Linked DNA regions of Homo sapiens. The protein of the gene in region 2 purifies or fractionates together with the protein of the main gene of each other region. This does not show direct contact. Each region holds a gene or a part of one and is shown on either strand. Other genes may lie near its edges.

Region 1 (3,500 bases), on a different chromosome or scaffold from region 2:
CAAGAGTCCCCACAATGGTCCTCTAAAATGATTTACCCTCAGTAACTGGCTAGTTGGTCTGCTAATCACCTTTGGCTAGTCGATCTGCTAATTACCTTTTCTCCCTAAGCTTAATAAGATTCTCTTTCCTTTTTCCTCTCTGTGCATCAGTCAGTTTTTACTGCTTCAGGCCCTCCAAACATACTCTGATGACATCTTGTCTTCTGAAACACATACCAAAATTGATCCCACTTCTGGCCCAAGGCTCATAACCCGCAGGAAGAATCTCTCTTATGCACCAGGCTATAGAAGAGATGACCTCGAGATGGCAGCCCTGGATCCTGACTTAGAGAATGATGATTTCTTTGTCAGAAAGACTGGGGCTTTCCATGCAAATCCATATGTTCTCCGAGCTTTTGAAGACTTTAGAAAGTTCTCTGAGCAAGATGATTCTGTAGAGCGAGATATAATTTTACAGTGTAGAGAAGGTGAACTTGTACTTCCGGATTTGGAAAAAGATGATATGATTGTTCGCCGAATTCCAGCACAGAAGAAAGAAGTGCCGCTGTCTGGGGCCCCAGATAGATACCACCCAGTCCCTTTTCCCGAACCCTGGACTCTTCCTCCAGAAATTCAAGCAAAATTTCTCTGTGTACTTGAAAGGACATGCCCATCCAAAGAAAAAAGTAATAGCTGTAGAATATTAGTTCCTTCATATCGGCAGAAGAAAGATGACATGCTGACACGTAAGATTCAGTCCTGGAAACTGGGAACTACCGTGCCTCCCATCAGTTTCACCCCTGGCCCCTGCAGTGAGGCTGACTTGAAGAGATGGGAGGCCATCCGGGAGGCCAGCAGACTTAGGCACAAGAAAAGGCTGATGGTGGAGAGGTCAGAGTGTGTTTCTGCAAGGATTTTGCTTGTAATGGATGGTCTTGTGTAACTTTTCTCATGCGAGAAAGCAGCTCATCGTGTTGCTCAACTCTGCATGTCGCGTGCCATTTTGAAGCATCCCGTAAAATTTAATTTGCTTTGAAAAACCCTCAGTCGTTTTGTACAAAAAGTGCAATTCCATATTTGCATATCTCTAAATAACTTATTTAGGCCTGTTTAAGACTGTATATACATAAACCTTGCCTTTGACTTAAGCAGTACTGTGGTACTATCCACCAATATGAAGTTTCTGGACTTCTCATGTTCAGGCATTTTTGTAACAGTCTGGTTATAGTTTGGTTTTATGTGTTGCTCACATTTTAGAGTGTCTGATTTTTTTGGGGGGGTGAAATTTTCCCTTAAAATATGGCATTGCAAATTTCATTTAACTTAATTTTTGGTTTTGGCCTAGGTTTCTTGGACTATCATTTGTAACTTATTTTTATTTATGAAGTTCAGAGTAAACGTTGATGTTAAAATGCATGAATGGTATTTGTTGTCTGCTGAATTTTATGTGTATGTAATCATGGCCATTTTGATAGTTTGTATTATGCAACTTGCCTTTTTGATGAATGTTCAGTTTGTGGAACTTAGAGATGGACAAATCTGATTAGGTTGAATAAAATTAGAGGATCCAAATCTAACTTAACAGTTCCTGACAATGGGAAGCCTTTTCATATGGATTTGTTAGCTCAGAGTAAATTGAGGAAATTCTTCATTTTGCTTAATCTGAATTTCCTGAGATAGGAAATTGATGAGAACTTGAGACATGATCAAGAATGTGATGGAAGAAGTGACCTTTTGAGATTTGTCCGTCTCCAGTTAGATTCTTAAGTGGAAGACATTGAACGTTTAGAAACTAATATGACTGGGAAAAATGACTTTTTAATTTTTGGTTTTCTGGTTTCTTAGACTCTTTCAAAAGATTTATGGTGAGAATGGGTAAGTTGTGTGGTTCACAGTAAAAAATCTGTGCGTGTTGTTTGTTCTTTGTATAACTTACTGTATTTCTGGCATGGCATGTCACTAAATGGGGTTGTTGTGTGCTGTGCATGATATTTTTTAAGTGGGAAATGTTTATCTTGCAACCTAATGGTAATATTTCTGTGTCTTGGTGCCCAGTGCAAGATAAAATTATTTGTTTTATTAAAAATTTAAACTTCAGCTTCATCCCTTCTTTTTTCCTTTTTAAAAATTTAATGAGTTGATTAAAAGTCACAAAAGCACTTGCCTAAGATTAGGTATATGTATTTTGGTATTTGGTTGCTACATAGACTAAAATTCTGATTTATGGATGCTAAAGCCCAAATTACTACATTTTAGAAAATCTGTGATGGAAAAAGAATATTAGCATTTACTTCAAGTTTAGAATACACCCAGTTGACATTATCCTATAATCGGCCAACTGGGAGCTTCGTTAGTAGGGATGCATTAAACTTCCCTAGGTGGTATTTGGAAGTATTATATTTTCAAGATTCCTGATTAGGAAAAAAAAGTTATAACATGGCTATATTTATAGTGCAAAATAGACCTTCAAAAACTGCAAAAATATTTTTAATTTCTAATATCACTGTTGCAAAAACTACATTTTTTTTTTTTTTTTTTTTTGAGATGGAGTCTCGCTCTGTCGCCCAGGCTGGAGTGAAGTGGCGCAATCTTGGCTCACAGCAACTTCCACCTCCCAGGTTCAAGCAATTCTCCTGTCTCAGCCTCCTGAGTAGCTGGGACTACAGTTGCATGCCACCACACTCTGCTAATTTTTGTATTTTTAGTAGAGACGGGGTTTCACCAGATTGGTCCGGCTGGTCTCAAACTCCTGACCTCAGGTGGTCCATCCACCTCAGCCTCCCAAAGTGCTGGGATTACAGGCAAAAACTACATTTACAGTAAATCATTTATTCATTCTTAGTACAAAATCACAAGGTGGCTATATCTTAATATTTTCCACCAAACTTTCTGTAACTTTGTGAATCTAAGGGCTAATAGTGTTTGAGCAAGAGGAAGAGAGTTAAAGGATGACAGATGTTTTAATCTGCTCAAGCCTCAGTAGCTAAGTATCTTCCCTTATGAGGATTTACTTCATCTATAAGAATCTCTAGTTTTGATAGCTTTTTATAACTTTGATAATTCAGAAATGTTGGAAGCTACTAAATGTAAAGCAGTATAACCATTCTAGATGCCAAAGGTGTAACTGAGCCACAGGCAACAAATTGCAAGTACTTGTTAGCCACTGATTTTAAAAACCAGGGTCCCTGCATGCTTTCCGTGTGCCATGCAAAGGCACATTATCCGCTTTCCAGCTCATCTGCATGATGCTTAAACATTTGCTACTCTCAAGTCATAGGAAAGCTGTTTTAACTTGATTAAAAATCTCTTTGCAGCTTTAAGCATGTTGAATTGTAACTTTCAGAAAAATTTTCATTTGTAAATTAAATATAACTTTATAATGTAAGCAGCTCTCAGAAATAGTTGCTTTTCTTAAAGGAAATAAAAGTACCCAGAGTACAAGTATGTGGTGGAAATGTCAACATGTACAACCATTTCAGTGGCTGGATGTGTTCCCTGTAGTGAGGGGTAAATTATATGAC
Region 2 (3,727 bases):
TATGTTTTGTTTTTTATTTTTTCAGAGACAGGGTCTTCTCTGCCGCCCAGGCTGGAGTGCAGTGGTGTGATTGCAGATCACTGCAGCCTTGACCCTCCTGGGTTCAAGCCATCCTCCTTTTTTGGCCTCCTCAAATGCTGAGATTATAGGCCTGAGCCACAGCACCTGGCCATGTTTTTTTTTTTTTTTAATGACATGTTTCGCTGAGAAACACTATAGGTGCTTGTTATTGAAAGGTGAGGGCAGCCGGGCGCAGTGGCTCACAGCTGTAATCCCAGCACTTGGGGAGGCCAAGGTGGGCGGGTCATGAGGTCAGGAGTTTGAGACCAGCCTGGTCAACATGGTGAAACCCTATCTCTACTAAAAATACAAAAATTAGCTGGGCGTGGTGCCGCGTGCCTGTAATCCCAGCTACTTGGGAGGCTGAGGCAGGAGAATCGCTGGAACCCAGGAGGTGGAGGGTGAAGTGAGCTGAGATCACACCATTGCACTCCAGCCCAGCGACAGAGTGAGATTTTGTCTCGAAAAAAAAAAAAGAAAGAAAGAAAGAAAGAAAGATGAGGGCGTTCGTAACTCCACACTCCATTTCCCTCCACCCAATTCCTCCTGAGTTTTGTAGCCCAGGCTGTTATTTTTATATTGTCCAGGTTTATAGCCCTTGCTTCTGTATTGTGGCTGTAGTGCCCGCAATGATTTAGTATCAATTCAACATTTAAATACAGTCAGTGCTCACCAAAGTCCTTTTACCATTTATGTCTCTGTTCATTGTGCTGTCCCTCTTAATCACCTAGATTTCATTATCAGTCGTTTTTTCAGAAGGACTCGAGTATTTCCTGAGTGTTTTTTTGTGTCTGAGAATGTCTGCCCATGGTCTTTATCTTTGAACAATGTAGAGATATCTTGGCTGGGTATAATACTCTTAGATTTATTTTCTTCCCCAACACTTTGCAGCTGTCATTCCACCATCCCCTGGCTCACATGTGCTGTGGGGAAGCCTGAGGTCAGCTGATTTTTCCCCATGTGGAGGCTTGTCCTTCCCTTCATGAATTTCTGAGGAATTCTTTCTTTTTGTCTCATAGTTCTTCTGCTTAACCAGACCATGTCTCAGAGTTGAATGTTTGTGTTAAACTTTTAGTATGAACGTACTCTTTGAGTTTCCAGGTGTGTGTGTGTATGTGTGTGTGTATGTATTTTTTTTTTCTTAGATGTAGTCTCAATCTGTTGCCCAGGTTGGAGTGCAGTGGTGTGATCTCACCTCACTGCAACCTCCACCTCCCAGGTTCAAGTGATTCGCCTGCTTCAACCTCCCAGGTAGCTGGGATTACAGGTGCCTGCCACCACACTGGGCCAATTTGTTTTTGTATTTTTAGTAGAGACGGGGTTTCCATGTTGGCCAGGGTGGTCTCGAACCCCTAACCTCAGGTGATCTGCTTAGCTCAGCCTCCCAAAGTGCTGGGATTACAGGTGTGAGCCACAGTGCGCGGCCTGAATTTTTCTGATTATCTTATGCCTTTCCTATTTGTTGGTAATTTTGATTTCAGTAAACTGTTCTAGCTGTTTCTAACTTATTGATTAGTTCAGTAAAGATGTTATTTTTGTCTCCTAATTTTCTCTTAGTTTTGGAGTTTTCCTTTTTTTTTTTTTTTTTTTTGAGATGGAGTCTCGCTCTGTTGCCCAGGCTGGAGTGCAGTGGCACGATCTCAGCTCACTGCAACCTCTGCCTCCCAGGTTCAAGCGATTTTCCTGTCTCAGCCTCCTGAGTAGCTGGGACTACAGGTGTGCGCCACCACGCCTGGCTAATTTTTGTATTTTTAGTAGAGACGGGGTTTCACTTTGTTAGCCAGGATGGTCTGGAACTCCGGGCCTAAGGTGATCTGCCCGCCTCGGCCTCCCAAAGTGCTGGAATTACAGGCGTGAGCCACTGCGCCTGGCCAATGTGCACTTCTGTGACTGTGTCTCTGGCCCCCGTTATGTGAAAGAGACTCTCCCATGTTGTGTGAGGCTGTGGGGTGTTAATTCTCATGGTGGTGACATCCCTTTTGTGACTCTACCGTGATTTATTCTCCATCCTGCGGGTGACGGGCATTTGGGTGGTTTCAGGTTTCTGACTATTATGGTTTGTTCTGCCATGAACATTCCTAGTACACATCCTTTGCATTTCTGTTGAAAGGTCCCTATGCGTGTGAATCGCTGGGTATCAGGCACGCAAATGTCTGCACAGGTTTCCCTGTAGTAGATTCTCGCAAAGCATTTTTCACTTGGTGCTCCCACCAGCAAAGCTGGAGGCCCCGGCTGCATCATCTTCCCTCTCAGCACGGGGCTGTCTCTGTCCTTCTGTGGTGTGTAGTTTGCCTTTGCATTTCTCTGATGACTGAGCACCTTTTCATACGTCTATGCGAAATTCCTCTTTGGAAAAATGCCCAAGTCGGCCGGGCCTGGTGGCTCACGTCTGCAATCCCAGCACTTTCAGAGGCCGAGGCGGATGGATCACCAGAGGTCAAGAGTTCGAGACCAGCCTGGCTAACTTGGTGAAACCCCATCTCTACTAAAAATACAAAAAAAAATTAGCCAGGTGTGGTGGCGGGCACCTGTATTCCCAGCTACTCGGGAGACTGAGGCAGGAGAAGCACTTGAACCCGGGAGGCGGAGGTTGCAGTGAGCTGAGATCGCACCACTGCACACCAGCCTGGGCAACAGAGTGGGACTCTGTCTCCAAAAAAAAAGAAAAAAAATAGAAACAGAAAGAAGAAAAATGCCCAAGTCTTATGTCTGTTTTTTCATTTAGGTTGAATTTCTTTCAATGCTTGCTAGGAGTGTTTAAAATATAGATTCTGGCTGTGAGTCCTTTGTCGGCTGTGTGATCCTGGATAGCCACTCTCATCTGCACGTCACCTTTCCACTCCTTCAGTGGTATTTTTGGATGAACAGAAGCTCTTAATTTTAACATAATCCAAATTATCAGTGTTTTGTGGTTAGGACTTTGGGTCCTGTTGAACAAACCTTTGCTGCTCCCAGATTTAAAAAAAAAATGTTCTCTACAAGCATCGTTTTACCTTTGACATGAATGGCTGCCTCCAGCTGGGGTGAGGCCTGAGGCAGGGATCGAGACACACTTTTTTCAGTCGGATGCCCCCCACCCCCACCCCGCATCGCACGGCCACCGTTGTCCCAGCTGAGAGCCCGCCTGTGGGTCTGGGTCTGCACCGTTGGCCCGCCTGTCTCTTGTGTGTGTGCCCCGGGTCAGACTCTGTCTTCTGTGGATGGGCATGCCCTGTGCTGGCCAGGGCAGTCAGATGCATCTTGTCCTTGCTCAGGCAGCTGTGCCCAGGTGTTCCCTTTGCTCCGATACGGTCAGCGAGGCCTGGATTCTCCCTCCTGGGCGTTTGTCTTCCTCTCGGTCTGTAGTTGCAGGGCAGAGTTCTTGGATCTTGGACCCTGTCGGCAACTTGACTCCACAGACTATGTGGACCCCACTGCTCTGCCTGTCACCTCAGCCCACGGACCGTGCGGGCCCCACTGCTCTGCCTGTCACCTCAGCCCACGGACCGTGCGGGCCCCACTGCTCTGCCTGTCACCTCAGCCCACGGACCGTGCGGGCCCCACTGCTCTGCCTGTCACCTCAGCCCACGGACCGTGCGGGCCCCACTGCTCTGCCTGTCACCTCAGCCCACGGACCGTGCGGGCCCCACTGCTCTGCCTGTCACCTCAGCCCACGGACCGTGCGGGC
Region 3 (3,727 bases), on a different chromosome or scaffold from region 2:
TTTTCCACTGACTTTAATGAAGTCTTTCAGATTCTCTTAAACACAGTGAAGGATTCAAAGGCAGAGCCACACTTCCTTTCCATCCTGCAGCACTTACTCTTGGTCCGAAATGACTATGAGGCCAGGTAAGATGCTGTGCTTATGAGAAGTTTTGAATTTGAGCCTAAGTGGAGAGAGTGAATTCCTTAAATTCAAAGATTGTTCTGTAAAAGGAAAATGTAAAGACAAAGACCCAAGATTAGGGTTCATTAGTCACCGATATAAAGGAAGTTGTCTTATTTCTTTAATCCAACTCAAAGGCATCCCTATGGCAGAGGTCAGAGTGTATAAGGTGAAATGCCGTTCTGTTTTTGGAGGGGAGTAGGTAAATAGGATGAAGATGTTAGCAAACAGAAGTGGCAATTTAAAATTCTTTCTAGTTTCCTGGAAGTATAGATTTAGCAATAGCACTATCCATCACAGGAAGGATCAAACGCAAATTTTTAGATGGGAAAGTATTGGCACTAGGAGCGGATGGCAAGAAGTTTTGATTATTTGAAGTAGATAGGGTAGGGTAGCTGATGTGGAAAAAGGAGTTTTCTTAGCATGGCAGCAATACTTGTGTTAACTTTACAAAAGTTTTTCCAGGTCTCTCAGTTGTCAGAGCAATTACGTTTTCTTGGTCCTGAATACTTCTGAAAATTATATTTTGATTTTCCTTTGATGACCCTGTTTTTATTCTCTTGTAGACCTCAGTACTATAAGTTGATTGAAGAATGTATTTCCCAGATAGTTCTGCACAAGAACGGGGCTGATCCTGACTTCAAGTGCCGGCACCTCCAGATTGAGATTGAGGGATTAATTGGTAAGCATACTCTTCTATCTGGCTCCTCCAAGTATTGCTTCTTCCTTTCATTTTGCATCTTGTTTCAGTGAAAATGTCAGAGAAGATACCTTTCCAGTCCCCAGATAGTTCTATTTTTGTCCTTTCTTAGGTCATAACCAGCATCTTTGCTAGGAATCTATAGGTCTTTAGTTTATTTTTAGATAAAACACACACCAGCACCTTTTGCAGGAACTCCTGGTGGTCTCAGAGAGTCAAAAATATCACTCATAGGCATTCTTCTTGCCACCCAGCATGGTGGCCTTACCGCACACTCAGATTACATGTTGAACTTAACTGAAAGTTCCATTTCTTTGTCTAGTGCAGAACATTAAGAAAGATAATAAAAATGATCAAAAAGACTGTTCTTTGGAAGGGTGTAGTGTGAAAGAAATAGAACAAGAGAATTAGGAGCTTTACTTACTGACTCTTCTTCTTTTCAGATCAAATGATTGATAAGACAAAGGTGGAGAAATCTGAAGCCAAAGCTGCAGAGCTGGAAAAGAAGGTGCATATGAGAGACCAAAGACATGTGTTTGAGTATATCTTTCTTTGAGAATTATTATTTTCCTGATCTATGAGACAGTTTTCCTCTGTGGTATTTTGGAAGCGTTTAGCACCCAATAGTGTAGTTCCCAGGGGAAACCTTTCCAGTATAGGGTAGTCATTGGAGAAAGTGATATGGATGTCTTCATAGGGAGCTCTAGTGGTGGACTTTCAGTTCTTGGGCTACTGGGCAGGAAAAGAAAGACAGATGATACTCATGTAATAGTAATGGCACTCTCAGGTTTGCTTGGCATTTTAGGCCTCTTACCCCTAGAACAATAGGAACTGGGGTCCTTAGAGCAATAGAACTAGAGGATGTCTGAGTTCTCTTTTTCTCTTCAGTTTTTAAGAACGTTTATTGTGGTTAATAGGTTTTTGATCCTAGAGAATATTGGGATTGTACTACCATGGTCGTCCTCGTTAAATACCTTTAAAATCTTATTTTTTTTAACTATAAAAATAGGGAATCTGTGGAAATGAACTGATTCCCCTCTCCTTTAACCTTGTTTTATTTTCATTTTTATTTTTATTTGTTTTTTTTTTGAGACGGAGTCTCACTCTGTCATCCAGGCTGGAGTGCAGTGGCGCGATCTCGGCTCACTGCAACCTCTGTCTCCTGGGTTCAAGCAGTTCTCCTGCCTCAGCCTCCCAAGTAGCTGGGATTACAGGTGCCCACCACCATGCCCGGCTAATTTTTGTATTTTTGGTAGAGGCTAGGGTTCACCATGTTGGACAGGTTGGTCTCGAACTTCTGACCTCAGGTGATCCACCTGCCTCGGCCTCCCGAAGTGCTGGGATTACAGGTGTGAGCCACTCCGCCCAGCCAAACCTTGATTTTAAGGTCAGAATCATGGTGCTTTTTTCCCCCGAGCATGGCCTGGATTTATGAGCTCTGTAAATCAAGTACTGGCCCAGAACAGGAGGCAGTGGGGGGATTCCAGCACCCCCAGGCAAAAGAGGAGGTAGGGAGAATTATGGGTAATAATACTTGTGCTTCTTACTGAGATGGAGAGCTTGCTGGGAGCCTGATTCGTTTTTTCTCTAGTTGGACTCAGAGTTAACAGCCCGACATGAGCTACAGGTGGAAATGAAAAAGATGGAAAGTGACTTTGAGCAGAAGCTTCAAGATCTTCAGGGAGAAAAAGATGCACTGCATTCTGAAAAGCAGCAAATTGCCACAGAGAAACAGGACCTGGAAGCAGAGGTGTCCCAGCTCACAGGAGAGGTAATGCCTGAGCAGGGAAGGCAGAATGACCTGTAACCTCAGGATGCACATGGCTTGGAACAGGAGTCAGTCATCTCGCTCCTAGGGAGGGTTCAGCTACTAATAGGTAATCTAGTTACATGGTGCATATTTTAAAAATAATATACTGGTTTTTGGTTTGTGTTGGGGGTAAGTAATACATAAGACAGAAAATCTGGAAAATACAGAAAAACATTAAGAATAAAGTAAGTTTCATTACCACCCAGAAATAAAAGTAATAAGTCTCCTAATAAATTAGGAATAAAAACTAAACTGTTAAAAATTGACTAATTTCCTGTTATTTTAGTCACCTCTGCACAGATTTATCCTTACACACTCTCTCTGCAGTAGTAAATACTTAAATGATCTTTGATGTCTGATAACTTGATTACTTATGTGGTTATATAATCATCTGTGTAGCACATATATTAGTTATATAACTAGAACATTTAATTTACTTGACCTTTACATTTTCTAATCAAGGGAGGGTTTAACATAAAGGTTGAAATTGTCTTCTTAATACAAAGCATGCTGAACTAAGAACATGAAAACCTGAATTCTAGTTTTGGCTCTGCTGCCAAGCCGTGTGACTTTAGGTGATCATGTCATCTCTCTGACTCCTCTCAGTTCCTCCATTTGTAACATGAGAAGTTTGGATTAAGTAGTTTATTAGGTTCCTTCCAGTCCCAGTAGTCCCTGAAGTGGGGTGAGAAGTACTCACATTGATGTTATTTCTGTAGGTTGCCAAGCTGACAAAGGAACTGGAAGATGCCAAGAAAGAAATGGCTTCCCTCTCTGCGGCAGCTATTACTGTACCTCCTTCTGTTCCTAGTCGTGCTCCTGTTCCCCCTGCCCCTCCTTTACCTGGTGACTCTGGCACTATTATTCCACCACCACCTGCTCCTGGGGATAGTACCACTCCTCCTCCTCCTCCTCCTCCTCCTCCTCCTCCACCTCCTTTGCCTGGGGGTGTTTGCATCTCCTCACCCCCTTCTTTACCTGGAGGTACTGCTATCTCTCCACCCCCTCCTTTGTCTGGGGATGCTACCATCCCTCCACCCCCTCCTTTGCCTGAG

What was found.
Region 1: the proteins of RAB40B (region 2) and LMO7 purify together in Homo sapiens (affinity purification with mass spectrometry, with the first as the bait; one study listed by BioGRID). This does not show direct contact.
Region 3: the proteins of RAB40B (region 2) and DIAPH1 purify together in Homo sapiens (affinity purification with mass spectrometry, with the first as the bait; one study listed by BioGRID). This does not show direct contact.

Annotation. Positions count from the first base shown.
Region 1 is NC_000013.11:75,807,330-75,810,829, forward strand, and holds part of LMO7 (LIM domain only protein 7), read left to right. Parts: intron 1-150; coding exon 151-870; intron 871-1,824; coding exon 1,825-1,854; intron 1,855-3,500.
Region 2 is NC_000017.11:82,692,007-82,695,733, reverse strand, and holds part of RAB40B (ras-related protein Rab-40B), read left to right. Parts: intron 1-3,727. UniProt on the Homo sapiens protein: RAB40B small GTPase acts as substrate-recognition components of the ECS(RAB40B) E3 ubiquitin ligase complex which mediates the ubiquitination of target proteins.
Region 3 is NC_000005.10:141,573,873-141,577,599, reverse strand, and holds part of DIAPH1 (protein diaphanous homolog 1), read left to right. Parts: intron 1-8; coding exon 9-125; intron 126-728; coding exon 729-844; intron 845-1,305; coding exon 1,306-1,370; intron 1,371-2,453; coding exon 2,454-2,633; intron 2,634-3,391; coding exon 3,392-3,727. UniProt on the Homo sapiens protein: Actin nucleation and elongation factor required for the assembly of F-actin structures, such as actin cables and stress fibers. Binds to the barbed end of the actin filament and slows down actin polymerization and depolymerization.